Linked DNA regions of Homo sapiens: regions 2 and 3 are each linked to region 1. Evidence: fine-mapped expression QTL. A gene starts in region 1. Each other region holds a variant in brackets. All regions are shown on one strand. Distances are between the middles of the regions. Region 1 holds the start of BIN1 (bridging integrator 1). Region 2 has its middle 51 kb from the start of CYP27C1. Region 3 overlaps BIN1 (bridging integrator 1).

Evidence for each region.
Region 2: its variant is fine-mapped to the expression of BIN1 in whole blood (INTERVAL, PIP above 0.99).
Region 3: its variant is fine-mapped to the expression of BIN1 in whole blood (INTERVAL, PIP 0.96).

The regions. Positions count from the first base shown.
Region 1 is chr2:127,104,055-127,112,321 of GRCh38, forward strand. BIN1 (bridging integrator 1) reads right to left here and starts at 3,100. Exons shown (of 19, transcript NM_139343.3): 1 at 2,806-3,100. The coding sequence starts at 2,889. It overlaps LOC105373605 (a long non-coding RNA gene), which reads left to right and starts at 3,091. Exons shown (of 4, transcript XR_923311.4): 1 at 3,091-3,761. RefSeq lists an enhancer at 1-228 and silencers at 2,948-3,157, 3,039-3,333, 3,168-3,227.
Region 2 is chr2:127,165,420-127,173,686 of GRCh38, forward strand. It overlaps the pseudogene NIFKP9. Among named protein-coding and RNA genes, the nearest start is that of CYP27C1, 51 kb to the right of the region's middle. RefSeq lists enhancers at 1-317, 318-911, 5,527-6,078. The variant T/C (reference allele first, on the strand shown) is at 4,723.
Region 3 is chr2:127,079,832-127,087,831 of GRCh38, forward strand. All of the region lies in intron 1 of BIN1 (bridging integrator 1), which reads right to left. Among named protein-coding and RNA genes, the nearest start is that of BIN1, 23 kb to the right of the region's middle. RefSeq lists enhancers at 1,174-1,403, 1,724-1,853, 2,424-2,483, 2,524-2,723, 5,196-5,335 and 1 more. The variant C/T (reference allele first, on the strand shown) is at 4,362.

The sequences.
Region 1 (8,267 bases):
CCAGACACATGCACCCTGCCTGAGACAGCATCGGGGACTCAGCCCAGGAGGCACTGGGCCTGTGTCCAGGCAGGATTTGATGAATGAGTGATGGCAGAGAACAAACAACACAAATCAATCCACCATCAGCCTGCGTCAGGCCCAAATCCCTTGTTCAAAAACATTCACTAAGCACCGACTGGGGCCAGGTAACATCCTCAATGCACACACCTGGATGTGCCCTGCCGTGCCCTCAGGGATCAGCCAGACCAGTGGTGGAGGCAGAAGGGTCAACAGGTAACAACAGTCAAAAAAGAGCTGGCTTGGGGACCCTACAAGAGTGCAGGCTGCCCTTGACCACACTGTCACCCTCACAGTCTGGATGTTTGTTTGGGCTGGAAGTGGATGTGGGAAGGCCGGGGGTGAAGGGTGGATGCAAGATACGGGCCCTTCTTCCTACGCCAGGACGCCAGGACTCTCCCAGCCTCCCAGCACAGCTCCTGCCATCCTTGCTCAGGAAACGCCTTCCTGTAGCCACAGGGAAACTGGAATTGCCCTATTACCCACTGATTTCACCAAGGCAAGGTAGGTATAGTGGTGGGGCTGCCTGTAAGAGACTAGGATTCCAGTTTCATTGACAGTGGGAGTTAGAGGCGGCACTGATCACCAACAGAAGACACTGAGGATGACCCTCCAATGATGGCACAGACTCTACAGGAAGGCACACAGCAGAGGCTGCTGTGGGTTGAGGCATGGGGCTTCCTGCGAGCAGGGCCTGCAACCCAAAGGGAGGGGAAGGCTACTTTCAGAGACCTGGCCTGGATGCCTGTCATGATGGTCATGCTGCCTTGGTTTCTGATGGGGGGAGGGTCCCTAACTAGTCTCCGGCAGGCAGAGAGCAGCTGGAACACTAAACAACTCCAGTCCCAGGAAGCCCGGCATGGGCAAGGTCAGCTGTTGGCCAAGACCAGCATGCCTAGCTGACCAACTGTCAGCCAACTGCCCGTGGCCACAGAACAGGGGCTCAAGAGAGAGGGATGGTGTCTCAGGAGCTCAGTGATACATCACCACCTCCTTGGAGGGGACACAGCCCTTGCCTACTGCCCCGAGAATGACATCAAAGATGCTGCTGCAGAGAAAAGACAACCAGGGCAAAGGAGACACACCAAGAGCCTTGGGGAGCCAGGAAGGGGTGGGACACCAGTGGGAAGGGGGCAGGGAACACAGCTCAGCTAACCTCCCTTCCCATTCATCTCCCTGGCCCTTTAGGGAAGGAAGCAGGCTCTGGCCCAGGGCTGCCTGCTCCAGGCACACAGATGGATTACCCAGTCATGGCAGCCCGGAGCAGGGGTGGCTGCATCTGTGCTGCCACCCCCCCACCCCACAACCTGAAGTCTTCCCAGCCCCCAGCCAGCTATTCCTGGGGCTTTAATCCCTCCTCCTCCTCCTCCTCCTCCTCCTCCTCCTCCTTCCCTGGGGTGGGGGGTTGGGGAGCTGGGTCTGGGCAAACCTGGACTTGGCTGAGGGCCCTTCCTTCAATGCACACCCACCCACCTCCTTAGCCAGGAAACACAGGGATGAGCAGTAGGACTCTGAGGGAGGTATGGGGAAGCTCTAGGCGCCCCCCTCTCCCCCATCCCCCAGCAATCACGTGGTTGCATCCTTAGGGAGCCCGCGGGTCTCAGAAGCAAAAGTCATTGTTTATAAACAGCCACCAGGCCTGGCAGGGGAAGGCCGGCCTGTCCCTGCGCCTCCACCCGGCGGCCGCGCAGCGGGTGGGAGAGGGGGCAGGCCTGGCCGCGGGGCACTGGGGGGCCACCCTGGCAGAAACACAGATTCTGCAATCTCAGATTTCAGAGTTGGAGTCGTCAGGGGAAGTGGCGTCAGCAGCTGGCGTGATCCAATTCAATAAACCAGAGGTGGCTTGGGATAGACAACTGACCGGGTGCAGACCCCCGCCCCTCAATCTCTGCATTTCCTGCACGCTCTGGGCACCCTGGGAGGCCCCGGCTCCATCCCCCATTCCAGCTCTCCGCGAGGAGGGGTCGGGTTTCCTGTGGCGCCTTCCACGCGCCTCCTCCAGGCCAGCTCCCCACCCGGCCGTGGGCTCCCAAAGCCAGTGCCGCCACCCGCTCCCCGGCCGCCGGAAACGCTAAGCCCCTGCTGGGGCGAGGGCACCTCCTTGCGGGGTGCGTAGCCCTGGGCTCCCGGTGGGGCCGGGCTGGGCGGGAGCTTCCAGGCCGCAGGCACCTCTCGGGAAAGGAAACCCAATCCCTCCTTCGGCCCACGGAGAACGAAAGTGGAGAAGCAGTGGGAAGGAAGGAACTGTGGGTGCCGGTTCGAGAAGCAGCCTTGGGAGTCCGGGGGAATAGTGTCCCCAGGGGCAGAGGGACATACTCCCTCTCGCCCCGAGCGCCGGCCCAGCCTAGGTTGCCTGCATGGGCCTGGAGAGCTGAGGGTCACCACCTGGCCTCCCAGCCTCCCGGCCCTTGGCCTCCAAAGCGGGGTAGCCTGGAGCGCGCGCCTGAGAAGAGCCTGGAGCAGGGCCGGCCACTGCTGTGCAGCCGAGCCACGAAGGTGCAAAGCGGGGCCCTGTCCTGCCCCGGCCGGGTGTGGGGAGACAGAGGACGCAAACCTAAGAGGGCACCCAGAGCGCCGGGGAACGCAGCCTGGGGACCTCGAAGCCCCTCGAAAGCGCTCCTCTAGAGGTGACAGCACCAGATCCTGGCGAAGGACCAGGCCCCGGGGTCGGAGGATAGGGGGACAGGTGGCCGGGGCTCCGCGGCGGCTGGGACTCCGCGGCTGCTGGGGCTCCGGCTCGCTCACCTTCTCCTGCGCGCGGGTGAGCTTCTTCTGCACGTTGCTGGCGATCTTTCCCGCCGTCACCCCTTTACTGCCCATCTCTGCCATCGCGGCGCAGGCCTCGCCCGGTGGCAGGGGCCGCTCTCGCGCGGGGAGATCTTGCGCGCCGCGCTCCCAGCCCCCAGCCCCGGCCGCGCGTCCAGACCGGCTGCCGCTCCACGCCGCGCACCCGACAGCGGAGCCAACTGACGGAGGCGGAGCGTGCGCCGGACGGGCGAGCGAGCCAGCGAGCTAGCCAGCGAGCGACGCGGGGACAGAGGGAGGGAGAGGGGAGGGGCCGGGCCTCAGGCCGCGGTCGGCGCCCCCCGCCCGCCCCCTCCGGACAATAAGCTGCCTTTTAAAGGGCCACTCCGGGCGCCGGCACCGCCAGGTCCGCGAGGAGGGAGGGGCGCGCGCGGCGCTGGGGCTGCGGCGAGCGGGACTCCCCTGACGCTCCAGCTGCACCGCCCCGGGGCGGGGACTAATCCGCCGGCCTGGCGTCTTGGTCTTCCCCGCAAGCAGTAATCTCCTGCAACCCAGGAAAGGAGACTAGGTGGAGGAGAGGAGTGCTTTCGAAATCAAAGAGAAAGTGCGGCGAAGGGGGCGCGGCCCTGAACAGAGGAGCCGCGGCTGCTGGGAGAACGCGCCCGGAGCCCCCTCCTTTTCCAGGGGCTCACCTCCCGCCCGGTGCCCGGTGCCCGGTGCCCGACGCTCCGCCTCCTCCCAGCCTTCGGCCCTCGGGTTTTCGCCCGGATACCCTAGGCGCCTCCGGGACATCTCCACATCTTTGCCTACGGCGCCTAGCCCAGTACCAACCGGTGCTTGGTCTTCCCGTTCGCTAAAAATTTATTATAATAACAACAACCTAGCATTACTGAGTGCTTACTGTGTACTAAGTGACTTGACAGGCATTATTTCATTCGGTCTCCGTGGCCCTAGAGGTAGGTGCTATTACTGTTCCTACTTTACAACCAACGCGCCGGGATCGAGGAACGAGATCTCTGCCTCTGTCTCCCAGGTGCTCCACCACCATACGCCGGGTTGTCTCCTACCCCCAGCAGGAAGGAATGATTAGTGATCATTATTCCTGGAGAAGATAAGGTTATTGCTAACCAGCTTTGCCAATAGACCAATGACACTTCTTTTAAGTTAATAAATACGTATTGAGTCTGCTGATACCCACCCCCATTCAGCCCTAAAACATGTCAGGGGCTACAGCACTTTGCTGCCCCTGGAAATTTCTAAAGAACTGTTGATTGAGTTGAGCAGAGAGATAGGTCCCGCTGAAGAGGCCTAGACGTGTCTGGTGCACACACAGGAGCCAGGGCTATGGCCTGCAGGACCCGCAGCGGTCAGAGGAGCAGAGCTGGCCAGGGACAGAGGTCCCTGAGAGGCTTCCTGGAGGAACAGGAAGGGCTCTTGCAGACCACAAACCAAGCAGTTTGTACAAATGGAGAAATCGAGTCCCAGGAATGAGAGGTTCAGCCTGGGTTCACACAGGCCATTCCCTCTTCCCTGGAAGGCCCTCCTGCTCTTTCTCCGGCTACTCGGGGTTCTTCCACCACCGCTCAGTGCTGCCCCATGGCCCAGTGTGTTCGTCTGTCCTCTTCCGGGCCTATTATCATGATGTCCCTCGGTATCCCCCAGGGGACTGGTTCCAGCACATCCGTGGATACCAAAATCCAGGGATGCTCAAGTCCCTCATATGAATTGACACAGTATCTGCATATAGCGTACACAAATCCTCCAAAATACTTTAAATTATCTCTAGATTCTTGTAATAGCTAATACAATTTAAATACTATGTAAATAGTTGTTAACGCTGTATTTTTTATTTATTTATTTATTTATTTTTAGACAGAGTCTCACTCTGTCGCCAGTCTGGGGTGCAGTGGCGCAATCTGGGCTCACTGCAACCTCTGCCTCCCGGGTTCAAGTGATTCTCCTGCCTCAGCCCCCCGAGCAGCTGGGACTACAGGCACGTGCCACCATGCCCAGCTAATTTTTGTATTTTTAGTAGAGACGGAGTTTCACCATGTTGGCCAAGATGGTCTCCATCTCCTGACCTCGTGATCCTCCCGCCTTGGCCTCCCAAAGTGCTGGGATTATAGGTGTGAGCCACCGTGCCCGGCCTTGTTTTTTATTTATATTATTTTATTGTTGTAGTCTTACTTTTTATTGTATTTTTCCAAATATTTTCAGTCCACAGTTGGTTGGATCCATGGATGCCCAACCCACAGATGCAGAGGGCTGACTGTATTCTTATTCTGCAGGAAGACAGACTGAGGCGCCGCTGATGTAGGTCACACAGACAGCAAATGATAAGCAGAGATTCTGCATCAAGCCTTCCTGCACCAATGCCCTCAAAAGCACCAAGCGCTGCATGAGTGAAAAGCATCTGTCAAAATTATTATAAACTCATGCCCGATTTGTGAGTCACAAAAGCAAAACCTACACAGTCTGGGCTTCTAAAGCAGCTTCCTCCTAAAAGCTCAACATGCTTTCAGCTCATGATCTCCTTCCTCCTCATTTTCTGTTGGTCGTTTTTCTAACCATTCTCTAAAAGTGATTTCTTCCAACACTCCTCTGAGGAAAGGAGGAAATGAGCAAAGTCAAATTGCATTACAGTCAGCCCCCAGGGAACAGTGGGAGATTCTGCTTCACTGGACTCTGGTGTTTCTAAATATCGCTTGACAGAAAAATTGGAAGCAACGGAAGTGTTCATTAGAGGGATGGGGTCAGCTGTGACAGCACAGCCACAGGAGGGGCCATTGGGAATCATTTAAAACAACCATTACCGAGACTACGTAGCAACAAGAAAATAATGCTTAGGGCATAATTATGAAGGAAAGGAAAAGATAGGAAATTGTACTTGCAACCATATAAAAATAAATTAAAATAAATTAAAAGCTCATGATCAATGTCTTGAAAGAACAATGCATAAAGGAAGCAGATGTGTTAGGGTCCAGGCATTAAGGCTGACTTCTTTCCCCCTTAATTTCCTTAATATTCTATAATATGACATAATGCCTTGCCTATAATCCCAGCACTTTGGGAGGCCAAGGCAGGCGGATCACTTGAGGTTGGGAGTTCGAGACCAGCCTAACCAACATGGAGAAACCCTGTCTCTACTAAAAATACAAAATTAGCCGGGCGTTGTGGTGCATGCCTGTAAGCCCAGCTACTCGGAAGACTGAGGCAGGAGAATCACTTGAACCTAGGAGGCAGAGGTTGCGGTGAGCCGAGATCGCACCATTGCACTCCAGCCTAGGCAACGAGAGCAAAACTCCATCTCAAAAAAAAAAAGAATCACAGCTCTGTTTTTTTAGAGGTGATTTTTTATCAGATCGCTAGATTAAAAAGATATTTCTAAACACAAAAGCACTGGAGAATATATTGAAATTTTAAAATGCTTGCTTTGAGGTACATAAAAATTAGAATTCTTAAACTTCAGAAAATACCATAAAAACATAGGATAAAAGTTTGGGAGGAAATGATCTAAAAATGTTAGTACAAGTTCAAGGGGTAGAATGTAGATTTTTACTTTTTTCTGTATAATTTTCTATAGTATGTTATTTTTTTTTACCATGACAGCCCGTTATTTTAATTACCAGGAAAAGAGTTATTCCCATTTTGAAAATAAGTTTGACATAAAAATTAAACTGTAAGAAACTAGGGAAAATTTTTTTGGCAATAAAATAGAACTCTTACAAATTCATAAGAAAAACATTAAAACCCCAATATATAGTAGACAATTTATAAAATTGGATATTCAAATAATTAATAAATAGGTTTTCGAAAGTCAGACTTACCAGACAAAAAGAAAGGTTCATTAAATCAATGAAATACCATTTCTGTTTTCATTTTCATCAAATCAACAAATTATTTTTTAAATTATGTTACTTAATAAAACCATAGAGACAGAAACTCACATTCTACTTCTGAGAGTGTAAACAGATAACAGAATTTCTAGAAAGCAATCTTGTAATAGAATAAGAATAACCAAAATATCCATATTCTTCCACCCTATAATTCCAAGTCTATGATTTAATTCAAAAATTTGGCAAAGCTTTCACCACACAGATGTTCATCACATTATTTATAATAATGCAAAACTGAACACATCTAAATATCACCACCTGAATGCCGAATGATTAACTAAACTATAGTATGGCCATGTATGAAATGTTTACCAAAAGAATATGTTCTTGAAGTTTCTCATGATAGGGAAATGTGATGTTAACAGGATAATACAGTTTAATGTAAACAGTATCGTGCCAGCCGCGATCCAAAACGTGATTGATATCTCCAGGTGGAGCAATTCGGGGTGGGGTTTTTTTCTCCTACTTCTTTTTCTTTTTATTTTCCAAACTTTGTACATGTACTCTTTTTGTCATCAGAAAGAAGTGCTATTAAAAATACAAATTGAAATGAGGACAATGTCCCCTGGGGCAATAGTTGGGAAACCTCAGTGTGGCAGAATAGAAAGATAAAGCACACAGGCAGAGGGAGTGTGCCGTGCATCCAAACGGTGAGGGCTGGAGAAGCCATGTTTCTGTGTTTGTTTGCTTGTTTGTTTTAAATAGACTTTATTTTTATTTTTTTTTTTTTGAGACGAAGTCTCGCTCTTGTACCCCAGGCTGGAGTGCAATGGCTCGATCTCAGCTCACTGCAACCTCTGCCTCTCGGGTTCAAGTGATTCTCCTGCCTCAGCCTCCCGAGTAGCTGGGATTACAGGCGCCCAACACCACACCCAGCTAATTTTTGTATTTTTAGTAGAGATGGGGTTTCACCGTGTTGGCCAGGCTTTTAGAACACTTTTAGGTTCAGAGCAAAAGTAAGCAGAAGGTACAGAGATTTCCCATAACCTTTGCCCCACACATGCACAACCCCCCTCACTATCAACATCCCCAGCACAGTGGGACATTTGTTACAACTGAGGCACCTCCGTTGTTGCATCATTATCCCCCATAGTTCATAGTTTATGTGAGAACTCACTCTTGGCTTGTACGTTCTATGGGTCTGGGCAAGTGTACAATGGTACGTGTCTACTGTTAGAGTATCATATAGAACAGTTTCGCTGCCCTAAGAATCCTCTGTGCTCTGCCTGTTCATCCCTCCCTCCACCCCCCAGCCCCTGGCAACCACTGATCTTTTTGCTGTCTCCATAGTTTAGCCTTTTCTAGAATAAATGCCGTATTATTGGAACCATACAGTTTGTAGCCTTTTCAGACTGGCTTCTTTCACTTAGCAATATGCATCTAAGTTTCCTCCATGTCTCTTCATGGCTTGATCATTTCCTCTGGCACTGAGTAATGTTCCCTTTTCTGGATGCACCACACTTTATTTACCCACTCACCTATTGCAGAACATCTTGGTTGCTTCTGAGTTCAGGCCATTATGAATAAAGCTGCTATAAACATCCATGTGCAGGTTTTTGTGTGGAC
Region 2 (8,267 bases), 61 kb after region 1:
ATGCAGCTTGGTAAATTGTTCTCAGGTGGCTCCTTTGTGCCTCTTCTGTGGCCACAGGAAGCCGTGACTGGGCTTTCCTGCTATTCCAGGAAGAGGAGAAGACAGGTGCAGCGAACTGAGCACCAGCTGCACCCAGCCTAGACCAGCCAAACTCCAACTGACCCTGAGCTGCACCAGCAAGCCCAGTGAAGACCAGCAGAGCCACCCAGCACAACCCAGCCACCTCGGGATCGGCTGACCCTCACCTGACCCCAAGATGCATGAGCAAGCCAGGCAGAGACCAGCAGAGCTGCCCTATAAGAGCTGCCACAAAGCCCAGCTGACATTCAGCTGACACCACAGGGAATCCAGCTAAAATCAACAGAGCCACCAGCTGAAGCCAACCAGGCAAAATCAGCCAAGCCCCAGGCAACCTACAGACTTGCTGCCAACAAGACTGAGCTGCTCAGTGAGTGGATGAGGCCTGGGACCCCACGGCACAATGACCAGCCCCCACATTGCAGAGGAGCTCTGGTGGCCCTCGTAGCACGCCCCATACAGCATCTTATAGCCCTAAGAGCATCTCTCTGGACAGCATTATCCTGAAGGACTTCCGTGTCATCACACACTTCACTCCATGCAGGAGGAATTTGAAAATCCTGATTTCCATGCTCATTGTGGGATGGCACGATCTTCAAATGTGAAAGCTGGAAATCCCATTTACTTCTTCCCTAGTTTTTGGAGGTGAAATTCAAGAAGTTGAAACCCCTAGTGGAGCCCTCCAGGATGGTCTCACACCCTTCCCATGCACACCATGGAGGGGCTGAATCAGGAGTGTCCTGCGGCCTTTGTGGGCAGGAGGAGGCCTCCAGGGCCACAGAAGGAGAGCTGAGGCCAGAGAAGAAAGACCATCACCAGTGTTGACAGCCTACCAATTCTCCTCAGAGGAGCTTCCTAACCTTTGACCCTTCAATGGACTGGGGCTGTGAAAATGCATTGATTCCCTTATTTCTCATGGCAACTGGCCAGGGCCCCGGTGGCCAGAGCGCTAGGCCATCATCTCAGCCTGCAGCAGCCTGCCTGTGTCCCTGGGGGTGCAGGAGGAGGGATTTATTTATTATCAGAGTCTGTGGTGTCGGATTGAGAGTAAGGTTGGGAAGCACCTTTCACGCGCTCGTTCCCCTCCCACCTCGATGAGGTCTGGCTTGGTTCCAAGCGGAATGTTCCCATGTTCTCTGCAGTCTGTGGACAGAAGGGTCCTGGCTGCCTGAGGGTTATAGCCATGGACTCTGGGCCATGGAGGGGCCACTGACAGCAAGAGGCTCTCAAGGTACTGGTCCTGGAGAGGCTGTATCAGGCAGAAGCAGCTTTTCTGGGGACCCTGGGCAAGACCCAGACCCCCGTGGACTGCCTCGAGAGACAGTGAAAGAAGGAATGAGAAATCGGGACCATGAGGCCCTGCCCCATCCTTGCCCCACCCCTCTCCTCCCTCAGGACAAATCCTGAATTTCAAAACCACTGCTTTACAATATACAGTCAGAAATGGGATTGGCGGGTTGTGCAGTATTCACTTAGCCAGTCACTCTGTGTGTAGAATGGTCGGGGTTTTCGTATCTGCCTTATTCTTAGTGAGGCTGACTACTTTACGTTTAGCAGCCACTACAAATTGCCTGTTCATCCTAAAAATTATTCTATCTCCTCTACCTTCTGCGCAACATTATTTTGCAAAAAAAATTCATGCTGCTATCTAGTCATCATTGTTTTTCCCAACTTTGGGTTTTGAAAATGTTCAAGTCTACAGAGAAGGTGAAGTGACAGCGTGATGAACGTCCACGCACCTGTCACCTGGCATCACCCACTGTTAACATCCAGACACATGAGCTTCACCTCGGCCCATGGACAGACACATTGTTTTCTGAACCATTTGAGTGTGTCACCATAGTGCTTTGCCCTTAAATATTTCAGGGTGCATCTCCTAAAAATAAGGGTGTTTTCCAACCTAATCATAATACTGCTATCACACCTAGAAAAATAACAGTAATTCCACAGTATATGGTATACCACCCATCTTTAAAATGTTCTAGTTTCCCCCCCCAAAAAAAATGTCTTACAGGTGTTTTCTCCTACAGATAAGGTGGAGGAAAAAGGAAGGACTCAGTTATGTGGCTGATGTCTAATGGGCCATTATATAACATAGTTTTGAGCAAGAGTGACATGTCACACTAACTGAGGTTCAAGGGAGCTACTCTAGGAGACGTAAGTGGACAGGAAGGTTAATTAGGAGACTATGTCAATACATAGAGCTTAATCTGATATCCTCAAAATGCTTTCACCCTTTGGTTTTACAGGCAGGGTGGGAGGTAGAAAGCTACTTATTTAATCTACAACAGTGTTTGCTTTTTGTTTTTCATGACATTGATTTTTTTTTTTTTTTTGACAGAGTCTCGCTTTGTCACCAGGCTGGAATGCAATGGCACAATCTTGGTTCACTGCAACCTCCGCTTCCCGGGTTCAAGCGATTCTCCTACCTCAGTCTACCGAGTAGCTCGGACTACAGGTGTGTGCCACCAAGCCCGGCTAATTTTTGTATTTTTAGTAGAGACGGGGTTTCACCATATTGGCCAGGCTGGTCTTGAACTCCTGACCTCATGATCCACCCACCTCGGCCTCCCAAAGTGCTGGGATTACAGGCATGAGCCACTGCACCTGGCCTAATATGTCTTTAAAAGACAGGGTCTCCCTCTGTTGCCCAGGCTGCAGTGCAATGGTGCGATCCTAGCTCACTGCAGTCTCAAACTCCTGGATTCAGCAATCCTCCCACCTCAGCCTCCTCAGTAGCTAGGACCCCAGTCACTCACCACCACACCCAGCTACAGGCAGTTTAATTTTTACCAGAATGAGTGGCTAGGCATGGTGGGTCACGCCTGTAATCCCAACACTGTGGGAGGCTGAGGCAGGTGGATCACAAAGTCAGGAGTTCAAGACCAGCCTGGCCAACATGGTGAAACCCCATTTCTACTAGCAATACAAAAAATTAGCCAGGCATGGTGGCGGGTGTCTGTAATCACAGCTACTCGGGAGGCTGAGGCAGGAGAATTGCTTGAACCCGGGAGGTGGAGGCTGCAGTGAGCCGAGACCGGGCCACTGCACTCCAGCCTGGGCAACAGAGCAAGATGCCGTCTCAAAACAAATAAATAAATAAATAATTAAAAAATAATTTTTACTAGAATGCTTCTGTTGTGGACAACCAACCTGAGACCCAGTGGTGGGCGTGGCCAACCTGCTGATGAGTGACACAGCTGGCGCTAGCAGTGAGCCTCCTGACTCCCACCCTGTTAAGCCACGCGGCTTTCAGGTGGTTCCTTATCTCCAGTCACATCACCAATTTTGATCCATAGCCAAAGCTATGTTGTCTAATGCAAGGTTAGAAAACCTTTCTGGGCCAGGCACGGTGGCTCATGCCTGTAATCCCAGCACTTTGGGAGGCCGAGGCGGGCAGATCACGAGGTCAGGAGATGGAGACCATCCTGGCTAACACAGTGAAACCCCATCTCTACTAAAAATATGAAAAATTAGCCAAGTGTGGTGGCGGGCGCCTGTAGTCCCAGCTACTGGGGAGGTTGAGGCAGGAGAATGGCGTGAACCTGGGAGGCAGAGCTTGCAGTGAGCCAAGATCGCGCCACTGCGCTCCAGCCTGGGCGACAGAGAGAGAATCAGTCTCAAAAAAAAAGAAAAAAAAAAAAGAAAACCTTTCTGGTTATTACCACCAATCACTGGTAACATTTATGGAGTCCATGACACACATTGTGTTGAGCTCTTGTGCACAATCTCATATCTTCACAGCAACCCTGAGAGTGGTTAGCATCCCCATTTTACAGAATGGAAAACTGAGGCTCATGATGCTTAAGTGTTACTTACCCTTACTTATCAGAGTCGAGAATCCAAACCTGAGCCTTTGAACTCCAAAACCCACATACTTGTTACAAAGATAGGTGACAGAACCCACTTCGTGCTAGGGTGCCGAGTGGCGAATTCGAGATGTGCATTTCAAAGAGTGCTGGCCCAGTCCCCGTGCCTCCCGCTGGGAAGGTGTCCGGTCATGCTGGAGCATGAGAATGAGCAGTGTTTCATGGATTTGCCGGGAGATACTGAGGATTTGTTTTTGTTTCATCTCAACTCTCACATATAAACAATATGAGAATATTATCTTCGTCCTTCACAGAGCATTATACTATCTCCGGAGTATTATGAATAATACAGCTGTCAGTGAAATCAAATAAGTGGATAAGGGGTAAAGAACCGGGCACTATCATATTTCCTCTCCACAATGGGGTGTTGCTGTTGAATCAATCCCAGCCATAGTCATCACGTATTGATTACATTTAACCAAAATTCCAGGAATATGTGAACTTCAGCTGCATGTTCAAATTAAGATATTTTCTTTTCCCATAGCAGGCTCTGAGCTATATGATTTTGGAACTGGAATTACAAGATGACATAGTGTCATTTGATAATTAGGCTAATGATACTACCTGCTTAAAAATGTACACAATTTAAATGAACGGCATTTAGGAGTCTGATGATTGGTCTATTTCTTGTGGATTTTCTGTTGCGGACTGCAACTCACATAGGCTATGCATTTGTGGAGTTTGAGTCTGAGGGTGTTTGCAGCATAGTTGCTGAAACAATGAACAACCGCCTTTGTGGTGAGAGACTCTTGGAGTGTAAGTGCTCCTGTCTTAC[T/C]GCGGGGTTGCCTGGGTGCCTGCTGCTGGTGGGTGACTGTGGTGGGAAGGGCGGCTTGCCTAGCTGCTTGGACATGCCACTTCATCTCTGGGATGACTCTTACAGAATGGTGCAAGGATTTCAGTGTATGCTGCAGGCAGATTCTAATTGGAATTTTAAAATCTCCCAGCCTGAGAGCTGTTTTTACCCTAAATGGAGCTGGACAAGTTACCTTGGGGTCCCATGGGAGGAGCAGCTAACCCATCCTTATGGGCTGTGAAAGGCTTCTCTGAGGAAGTAGCATTGACATTAAAACCTGGAGACTAAACAGGAGTGAGCCAGGTGAAGGGGACAGGAGTGAAGACAGACCATTCCTGGCTGAGGGACAGTGAATGCCTAACCAGAGGTGCCTAACCATTTGGCTGTGAGGTAATGTGAGGAAAAGTACCAAGAGATGAGGGAGCAGGAAGAGGCTTCAGGTCAGGTTACTGAAGGCCTTCTAAGTCAGCGAGTTCAGAATTTATCCTGAGGGCACTGGGGATAGAATCAAAGGTCAGGAATCGCATTGCAAAATCCATCTAAATGGCAATGGCTGCAGCTCTTCCACGTGAGATAAGCCAGGGGGAGTGGAGGAGTGACAGCACCAGATGAGTAGTTCATCCTGCAGAAAGGAGCCAGTGCAGCCCCCTACCCTGCAGTCCATAAGGTGCAGACAGCATCCCTGTCCAGATCCTGCTGCCCTTGGGAGGCAAAGCGAAGTTTCTGGCCTCCCTGTGCCCATGGCGGCCTGTGGCCATCTTAGGTACCCAAGTTCACAGGCATCTGCCCAAACAGCTGGCGAGGCTGCCCAGGTGGCATCTCTCTGTCCACTTCCCATAGCTGTGAGAGAAGCTGACTGCCTAGCTGAGGTCATGGGTTCATTCTCACATTAAAAGCATGGCTCTTGCCAAGAGGAAATGAGCTGGGTAGGTGCCCTGAAAATTGTCGACCGCACGTACCAGGTCGGTGCTGTGCTGTGTTGGACTTGAGAAAAATAGCTGAAAGGGCTCTGAATGTAGAGTTGGGGATTGTTGCTCCTGTCTAACAGCACTGACGAACTCCACTAGGGCAGAACTGGCTCATCGAATAAGGGAGGAGACCACCCCTCATATTGTCTTATGCCCAATTTCTGCCTCCAAAGAAAGAAGAAGTAAAAACTAAAAGGCAGAAATGAAATCCACAGGCAGACAGCCCTGCGCCACACCCTGGGCCTGGTAGTTAAAGATCGACCCCTGACCTAATCAGTTATGTTATCTATAGATTACAGACGTTGTATGGAAAGGCACTGTGAAAATCCCTGTCCTGTTCTGTTCCATTCTTACCTGTGTATGCAGCCCTCAGTCACGTACCCCCTGCTTGTTCAATCAATCACGACCCTCTCACGTGGACCCCCTTAGAGTTGTAAGCCCTTAAGAGGGACAGGAATTGCTCACTTGGGGAGCTCAGTTTTTGAGACGTGAGTCTTGCCTATGCTCCCGGCCGAATAAAGCCCTTCCTTCTTTAATTCGGTGTCTGAGGGGTTTTGTCTGCAGCTCGTCCTGCTACACTATCACTCTGACATGAGATCAACTGTGGCATCTTGATTATGCTGTGGGAAATGGCACCAGGAGATTCTAAAGTGAACGTTAAAATCCCTCCCCTACCATTTGGTTGAAACCTTTTTTTTTTTTTTTTTTTTTTTTTTTGGAAATGGAGTTTCGCTCTTGTTGCCCAGGCTAGAGTGCAATGGCACTACCTCAGCTCACTGCAACCTCCGCCTCTTGGGTTCAAGCAATTCTCCTGCCTCAGCCTCCCGAGTAGCTGGGATTACATGCATGAGCCACCATGCCTGGCTAATTTTTGTATTTTTAGTAGAGATGGGGTTTCTCCATATTGGTGAGGCTGGCCTTGAACTCCTGACCTCAGGTGATCCACCCGCCTCGGCCTCCCAAAGTGCTGGGATTACAGGCGTGAGCCACTGTGCCCAGCCTCAAAACTTTTTATCTTTTCAAAATACAGGTCGGTTTCTGCCATATGAAAAAGCATATGATGAAGTTTTTAAAAGCTGGAATGTTCCATTTTCAGAGACACCTGCGTATCCAGCAGTAGAAAGACATAACAAAAAAAATATGTATACAAAAGTAAAAGTGAAGAACCAATTGCTTAAAAAAAAAAATTACAGCCCAGCATAGTGGTTCATGTCTGTAATCCCAGCACTTTGGGAGGCCAAAGGGGGAAGATAGCTTGAGTCTAGGAGTTCAAGGCTAGCCTGGGCAATACAGTGAGACTCATCTCTACAAACAATAGAAAAAGTGAGCCAGGCATGGTGGCGCACACCTGGAGTCCGAACTACTCGGGAGTCTGAGGTGAGAGGATGGCTTGAGCCCGGGAAGTTGAGGCTGCAGTGAACCATGATCACGCCACTGCACTCCAGCCTGGACGACAGAGCCAGACTCTGTCTCAAAGAAAAAAAAATTATTCAGAAGGAAAATAGCTTTAAAAAAGGAACATATTGCAGTTTTCCATCTTTAGTATACACTGCTTCATCAACTCTTTGTTGTTTGGAGGGATGATGGGAGAGTTGTAGCTCACTGGTTGCAATGTAGTGTTGGGGGTCCCAGGCCACACTTTGGAATTGTTCTTGAAAACTAGTATGACCTAAACGTGCACTCCTGCACACGAAGGGTGCCCACGCAGCTTGCCATTCCTTTCAAAGGACCAGGCCTCACCATCCGCCAAACATGCATTTACTAACTTGTGGACACTTACTAATGTGGTCCTAAGCTATCTCTTCACCCGTATGAATTTGCATTTTTTTGATGACCAGCAAGATGTAACTACACAGTATGCAGTGACTGCCAGTCTGAGAAGAATGAGACTTCCTCAACGTCTATACTGGTTCGAAAATTGACAGTGAAGTAAAAAGAGGAAAAAAAAGCAAAAGACAAATGACTGAGTTTCTCACAGTTCCACTGGGAAGAATTAGAGTTCCTGAGAGACGGTCCTCCACATTCAGATGAAATCATGCCTGCCCATATGAATCACCTGCAAAGCACAGCAAAGTAAAGCTCAAGTCATGACGTGAATACAAGCTAGGCCTCGGATTTCCCTCAAAGCAAGGGAAGGAGACTCTCCCAGCTGGCTTCCTCATGTTCTCACTCTTGGCAACCAGGCCTCACTGGGGATTTGTCACGTTCCTAAGCCAAGTATATTTTCCCTTCCATTCTTTTCTTAAAAGAATAATAGCACCAAGAACAGCACCGAGGTTATATCAGAGAATGTGCCTGTGTTTAGGAGATGCTGCTGGAGTGTTCGGGGGAAGTGACATGCTGTCTGCCACTGATTTTCCAACGACTCACACATGCACACACGCACACAGTGTGAGAAAGAGACCAAGAAGAATTGACCAAATATTTTTTTTTTTGAGACGGAGTTTCACTCTCTTTGCCCAGGCTGGAGTGCAATGGCATCATCTCAGCTCACCGCAACCTCCGCTTCCCGGGTTCAAGTGATTCTCCTGCCTCAGCCTCCCCGTAACTGAGATTACA
Region 3 (8,000 bases), 24 kb before region 1:
ACAAAACAACCCACCTCTCAGCCTCAGGCTCCTCCCAGACAAAATGGAAGGGTAATGTACAGAAAGCCCTCAGCCCTGAGGGGTGACAGCAAGCCTGAGGCTGAGCCAGTCTCCCCACTCTGCGAGACCTCAGGCTGCTGAAGCTCTCAGTGCTCCAGTGCCCCCGCCTTGGAAATGGGAGGAATAACAAGGCCACAGCATGGCCGAGGCCCAGGGAAGACCCATGGGCGAGGCTGGCCTTGGCCACATGCCATCCTCACTGCACCTACCCCCATTTCATCCATGAGGGAACGCAGGCAAGTGGCCTGGGGTCCCCATCCTCAAGGAGCTCCTGGTGTGGCTACCACAGGGAAAAACAATCTGGGCACCCCCTGCCCCAGAACAGGAGCTGGGACAAGGCCGTGAGCCCTGGGACACAGATCTCCCACCCCATCCGTTCCACACTTGGTTAGTGGGGCCTCCCCTGTGCCGAGCTCACAGGCAGACCACTGAGGGACACAGGGGACTCCAGGTGTCCAGGAGGGGCTGGCCCAGCAGCGACTAAGGAAAGCTGGGCAGGACAGTTGTGCTGGGTTTTGAAGGATGAGCAGGAGTTGGGTGAGGAGGAGGGTCTGGCGGCACAGGCCAGGATTTGCACTCTGTCCAGGGTTACTGGGTGAGGGCCCCTTAGACAATCAGTTCCACCTACACTCATCACACACTTATCACGCACACTCACTCTGTGATAAACAAAGGGGAGCCTTTGAAAACTTGGCGGCGGACGAGACACACAGAGGCCCAGGCGGCAGAGGCAGCCACAGAGCCAACAGTCCCAGGAGCTTTATCAGTGCCACACCCAATCACCTCCTATCAGAGCTTCCTCTCACCATGTCCTCAACCCAAGGCCAGATGTGAGTGGAGCTGAAGTGCCTTGGAGGGGACACCCCAGGGCAGGGCAGGGAGGGGGGGCAGGTGGCAGGAATGACAAAGTGTGAACCCGTGGCCAGCTCCAGAACCTCCTCCTGCAATCATCCACAGGGTTCAGCCTCGCTGGGCCTCGGCTGTGGAAGGAAACCCTCCCAAGGCTCCTCCCTAGAAAGGCTGGGTGGTTCACTGAGTTGACGCCATGCCTCCGGCACCCGGGTCCACAGGGGCTCAGTGGGAGCATCCCGTGGGTGGGTGCCCCTCCCCAGCCCTCCGCCAAGGCCTTTGTCATGGCCCAGTGAGAGGGCAGAAGGCCCTGGCGTCAGCCGCTCCCTGTGGGTACAGGGAGTCCTGCCACCCTCCAACAGCCCCCGCATGGCAGGCAAGGCCCTGACCCACAGCGTGAGTCATGGGGCACAGGCAGTGCACGGCCACCGAACCCAGAAGGAGGAAGGGTGCCCAGGCCTGTCTTGTTTGAGCCAGGAGCAGCTCACCACGTACAGCACCCACCCACCATGCACGCACTTCAAGTCACCAGGGCCGCCTCCTCAGAAGGGAAGTGTCCTTATGTGACAGATGGCAGGTGAGCACAAACAAATCAGGACACAGCCTGACACCGTCCAGTCAGGAGGGGCCAGGAGCTCTAGCCGCCACAGTGAGGAGGGCCGGGTCTTCGGGCTCACCCGGCTGGGCCCCAGCAGCCCCTCCTGGGGTCTCTGATCCCTCCCTCGGCCCCAGAGACCAGTGGGCCTGCTGCACTTGCGGGACACACACCCACAGTCTGAATGGCATGGCCCAGGGCAGGGATAAGCACTTCCCAAGGCCATCAGAAGGACCAGCCCAGGGGCCCAGGAGGGAAGCCTAAGGAAGGAGGGGTGAGGGCCGCGTTCCCAGTCACTCTGGTCCTGGCCAGGGCCAGGCAGAAAGCTAGGGGCTCCTCCACCAGCCAGCGGCACCCCTCGTCCCTGCAGTGGCAGCAGAGTTCCCAACACCCCACCCCCACACACACATGGAAGGGGGACCTCATCCAGCAAATCTCCCTCCCAGGCACCCACCACCCAGCTGCTGAGACCCCAGAAAACGCATAAGGCCCTCACCTTCCGCATCATCTCCTCCCCACCTGCCTGCACAGGAAGGGCGGGCTGAGAAGTGAGCCCTGTCTCGCCCCTTCCTCCCAGCAGAGCCTGCGGTCGGGGGCCACGGAGGCAGGATGCACACCCTCGTGCCCCGGCGTTCTCACACCGAGGCTCCCCAGGCAGGCAGACACAGACAGAGGACAGGCAGGCGGGCAGGGGGAAGGCCACTGTCAGACACCCGGCCAGGCTTTCTCTGGGCCCAGTCCCGAGGGAGACACCCCAAGAGGCGAAAGGGAGGAGGGCCCCTAGAACAGGACAAAGGCGAGCCTTCTCCCCACCCCCGCCCCCCACCTCTGGGTCCAGGCTCGCTCACTGACTCCCGGGGGCTGTCCCTCTGTCAATCTTTCCTTGCCCCTCCTCCTCCGTCGTCTCCCACACACAGCTCGGGTCAGCCAAGCTGGGGAGCTGTGGATGATGACACAGGGCTGGCCTCGGGGATCTTTCCGCCCTCATGCTCCAGGGGCCCCTGCAGGGGAGACAGAGGGCAGGATGGCCAGCTGAAGGCCTCCGTGGTCACAAGCTCTGAGGCCTTGCAGGCACTCAGCTGGGGATACCAGGGACATCGCAGGACAAGTCTGCACCGAGACCAGGGTTGGCGTGGGCAGGCCATGGTGGGCGCCCAGGCAGGGGAAGGGGTACAAGGCCCTCTGCCTCCCCTCTCCTGCCCCAAGATGCTGCCTGCTGTCTGACACATCAGGCTGGGGTGGCAGTGGTGAAAGGGGTACAATGGGAGTCTTAAACCCCCAGGGGCAGAGGGAGCCAGTCTGAGGACAGTCCCGCAGATCCCATAGTCACCTAGTTCCCCAGCACACAACCCCTCCTCCAAGCCCATCTCTCAAATGCGAGCTGTCCCTGCAACCAGACACACAGGACCCCTCTCCCGGCTGCTGCTCACACCTCCCCATCCCCACTCCGACAGTGGAGCCACCTAAGCCTGCTCCCCACCTCTGGGTGGAGAGTCTCGGTGGCCTCCAACAATCTAGGTGCCATGCAGGAGGCCACAGCAGCCCTGACGAGAGAGCAGAGGGAGGAAAAGAGGTTCTAAGCCCACCACTCACCTCCACATTTCATGTGGCCCTCTCACCTCCTTATTTTCAAAGTATAAACCTCAAAGAAAGTGGAAAGGATACTACAGGGACTATCATCTACCCTTCACCCAGATTCACCAATCAACTGTTACCACTTGGCCACACTCATTTGCTTTTTTCTTTTTTTTTTTTTCTTTTTTTTTGCTTTTCTCTTTTCTTGCTATGTCGTCCAAGCTAGAGTACATGGCGCAATCATGGCTCACAGTAGCCTAGACTTTCTGAGCTTAAACGATCCGCCCACCTCAGCGTCCCGAGTAGCTGGGACTACAGGCCACTGCACCTAGCTAGTATTTTTACTTTTTGTAGAGACAGGGCCTCGCTATGTTGCCCAGTTTTGTCTGGAACTCCTAGCCTCAAGTGATCCTCCCACCTCAGCACCCTCAAGGTGCTGGGATTGCAGGTACAAGCCACCGTGCCCAGTCACTTTTCTCTATATATAAACCGTTCCTGCATTTGTATGTTTGCCCAGCCAACAGAAGGTAAGCAGCAGAAGGGTCACTGGGATGACCTTCGCTCCACAATACTTCACCCCTAAATACTCCAACAGATTTCCTAAGAACAAGAACATGCTCCAAAATGCCCATGATACCATAAGCACCCCCAATACATCCAAAATGTATTTTAAAATACCATCTACCACACGGTCCGCATTCAAATATCCTTGGGTGCCCCCCAAATGCCCTTTATGTCTGGGTCTAGGATCCAACTGTGGTTCACATATTGCTTCTGATTGTCGGGTCTCTTGTTCCTTTAGTCCAGAATATTCCCCGTATGCCTATTTATCAATGTTATCCATTTTTTTTCTTTCGTGATACTGGTATCTTTTTAAGAGTGCAAACCAATCACTTGGAGAATGCCCCACACTCTGGATCCATCTGATTGTTTCCTTGTGAGGAAGTTCAGGTTAAAGGCTGCTTTGGCAAGAGTCCTGCAGAGGGAGGCTGAGCCTTCCCACCGCACCACAGCTGTGTTAGGCTTGACCGCCGGGTCTGAGTCGTGTTTGCCAGATCTCTTGGAAAGGAAGGTCACTTTTCTCTTAGTCATCTGCAGGACAATCACGGTCACTGTGGCAAGGCAAAAAGTTGTTGAAATTTTTGCACAGTGCCTTTACTATCCATCATTCTTTGCTATTCAGTGTGAGGTCTGTGGGCAGCTGCATGACAGTCTTCCAAGAGCCTGGAGGAGAAAAAAAACTGCAGACCTGCTGAACCAGAGTGTTCCCTTTAACAAGTCC[C/T]CCTGGCGCACCGTATGCGCAGTGAAGTCTGAGAAGCACTGCAATAGCATCTTGGCTGGAACCCGCTGTTACCCAATCTCCTCCACGTGACCCGGCATTCCACAAACACGAGCCTCCCCTGGTCTTGCCTTTGCGAGGAGGGTGGTGAGGATATCGTGAGTCCTTCGTTTTGCGTTCGTGATTCATTTTGATGCTCAAACATCCCAAGTGCGACCAGTGGGAGGTTTCGGACACGTCCTCATTCATCTCCAGGCGCTTCCTTACTTTCTGGCACTAGCAGATTCTCCAGGCTCAGCCTGCACTGTCCCTGCCCCAGCCCTGGCATCAGCCATTTCTCCAAGGAACCCTGATTTCCTTCGGTGGAGAGGCATGCTCATTGCTCTTAGGCATTTCAGCGTTCCCTCATGCTCAGAGCCGCAGATTATTACCCCTGCTTTAGAGATAAGAAAGGAAAGGCTGCGGCACTGAAGGATTTGGCTCTGCAGCGAAGAAGCGACCGAGCTCAGATTCTGTGGCTTTGTGGTGGTGGTGAACAAGCATCATCACTCAGGTCTGTCTGCTTCAAGAAGTGAGAAAGGAGACAGACCCATGGCCTAGCAGCTGCCCTCTGAGCCCATTGCAGTGTTCCTTAGGAGGCCACACTGACTGTGGGCTGTGGCACCTGCCCCAGGCTGGTGACTGCACAAGGGGCAGCTTCCTGGTCTCATCCAGCCCAGGGAAACTCTCTTCCTCCTCAGAACCCAGTGAAGTCACACGTACAGAGGCGTCTTCAGAGCAGCAGTGCTTAACCCAGAAGCTAGCAGTCTCCTGGTGACGATTGAGGCCTTGTTCTCCCTCCATCCCCCGCCCCGCCCCACCCCAGAGCTGCTGCTTCACCCTCAGGTTGGGAGGGGAGGGCACCCAGACCTGCAGCCAAGGACAGAGGGGCTAGAATGAGGGTCCCAGACTCCTTGGGAAAGCTACGGGCAGCTGGGCCCCTTGCAGCAGCCCCAGCTGTGGCTGCAAAGGGGAGAAGTGGCCCAGGTTCCTGCTGGAGAGCAGAGCCCAGGGGCACCGGGAAGTGAGTCCCAGGAAGCAAGCCCAGAACACACAGCACACTTCTTAGCGGCTAGCCACCCTTCAGGCTATGCCTTCCAACTTCTCAAAGGCACAATGACTTTAAAGATAAGTGCATTCCATCTGGAGGCAAGAACGCTCCCCAGCCCTCAGGGCCCCACACAGCAGCACAAGCTCGGCCATGTACATGCAGCAAGCACCTCCAGTGTGAGATGACGCCCACACACGCTCACACACACCCTCCCTGGCAGAGCCACCTGTTCATGGCCCTCCTGGGCACAGTAGGAAAGTGGAGGAACCACGAAGAAGCCACAGAGACAAGCAAGAGGCAGAGGGAGGCCCGGGGAGAGCCCATAATGAGGAAGGAGCCCGAAAGAAAACCAGAGATGGGGAAACCAAGAGCGAGCCCAGGGTGGCCAGACGCACCCCCAGCAGGAAGGGCCCAGCACCTCTGGGGGAATGGGGTCCTCCCCCTCAGCTCACACCCTCAGGGCTGCTCCGAAAGGGGGAGCTGAGCCAGGCCTCAGCCCCCTTCCCTAGCTCCTCTGTGCCCCCATACCTGGGGCCCCCATGTCCCCTGGGCTGGATATGAGGTGGTGGCAGGAGGGGCTGGCTCTAGGGACAGGCATCTGTCAACCTGCCCTCCCTCGAGGGAGATGCTGCCAGCTCAGCTCTCACTTCAGAGGGGACTCCCTCCCCATCAAATTCCTTCCCTATGGAGCCCAGTTGAGGCCCCCACATGTGCCCCTCTAGGTAAGCTCCACAAAGCTCACAGTGCAAAGCATGACCACCAGGGAATCTCTCCTCCAAGGACTCACCTTGGGGGACACATCACCCTTGAACCCCCTCCCGTTGGGTTCATATCCCTAGGCCACCCTGAGGTGATGACCGTTGGTCCTATTTTACAGATGAAGAAATCGAGGGTCAGGGCGGTCACTCAGCTAATGAGCTCTAGAGCCAGGATGCCACACCTGATCAGTTCCAAAGCCCAGACTCAACTTTTGACTCCCAAACTGGGGCACACAGACACTGGGGGGAGCGGGCGTGTGTCTGGAGCTTGCTGAAGAAGATTCACACTCCATCTTGCTTTGATCCAAAGATCGAACTGGTAAAGAAAACACTTTTGTGACATAACCAACATAGACAGCTTGTGGATTAGAACGCAAAGCTGACAAAGATTTTCACGATGAAATACAAAACCGGGAAGACATTCCTCCCAGGAAGGCCTGGCCTCGCCCCCACATGGTAATCCATCTTTTTTTCTTTTTTTTTTTTTTAAGACAGAATCTCGCTCTGTTGCCCAGGCTGGAGTGCAGTGGTGCAATCTCGGCTCACCGCAACCTCTGCCTCCCCGGTTCAAGCAATTCCCCTGCCTCAGCCTCCAGAGTCGCTGGGACTACAGGCGCACGTCACCACGCCTGGCTAATTTTTGAATTTTTAGTAGAGATGGGGTTTCACCATGCTGGCCAGGCTGGTTTCGAACCCCTGACCTCGTGATCCACCCGCCTCGACCTCCCAAAGTGCTAGGATTATAGGCATGAGCCACCGCGTCCAGACAGTGATCCGTCTTTTTAACAAGTCCATGACCCCCAGGAAGCGCCTGGCCTCACCCCCACATGGCGATCCACCTTTTTGACAAGCCCCCATGCTCCGTCCCCTGACACCAGTCCACAAAGACTCATCACACTTTTCCGTGGTCCCCTGCTCAGAAAGGCTGACTGAGGAAGCTGCCTGGCCTCTCTTGGGAGGCCGTCACTCTAAAATGATGATCTCCTTCCTCTTTTTGGTGATTTTCCCTTTCCTTTGTGAAATACTGGTGAGAGCAAAAAGTGGTGTTGGGTTTTCTCTTTTACATCCTTAACTGACAATAAAAACTTGACCAACTACGTCAGCCCCACCACAATGCTTTGATGGTCAAAAACGAAAACACAGAGAGCCCTCCCAGCCCGGCCGGCCCCTGGAGGTCCTGTCTGCATCAGAGCTGGCAGCCCAGCCCCGCCCCTGAGAAAGAAGGGGGAGGGGAAGGAAGTTGCAGGGTCTCCTCCTCCACACTCATCTCTGCAGCTGGAAGGGAAGGCTCCCGCCCCAGAGAACGAGTGTCCAGTTGACTCCAGGCCAGGAAGGCCCCCTCCCCGTCCTCTCTCTCATCCCTCCCAGGGTGCCTGAAATTCCAGCCGGTTCTGTAGATAAGCCTATGGCCTGCAGCCAGGGTGGTGCCACGTGGACCCCAGAGGAAGCCAGGGTGGGCTGCGGTGGCCTGGGGAGCCCCGAGCAGAGCACACAGCGTGAGTGGAGGCAGCAGGGGCCAGAGTCAGGCTGGGAGGGGGCTGGGGTGAGCACTCTCACAGTGGCCGGCGGGGCTGGACCAGCCAAGGGCAGTGCAGGACGGACGGCAGAGCAGGAACCGCTCATCCAAAGACCACATGTGCTCCAAATCCTGGCAGGGGAGGGAGGCGTTTCACAGTGAGGAAACCGAGAGTCCCATGTCAGTAAGCAATGAGCTAGAATCCGCACACGGCCCACCGCTACCAAGCCCTTGGATTTTATCAGCCACCCCACCACCTTCCAACCAGGAGGGCTGGA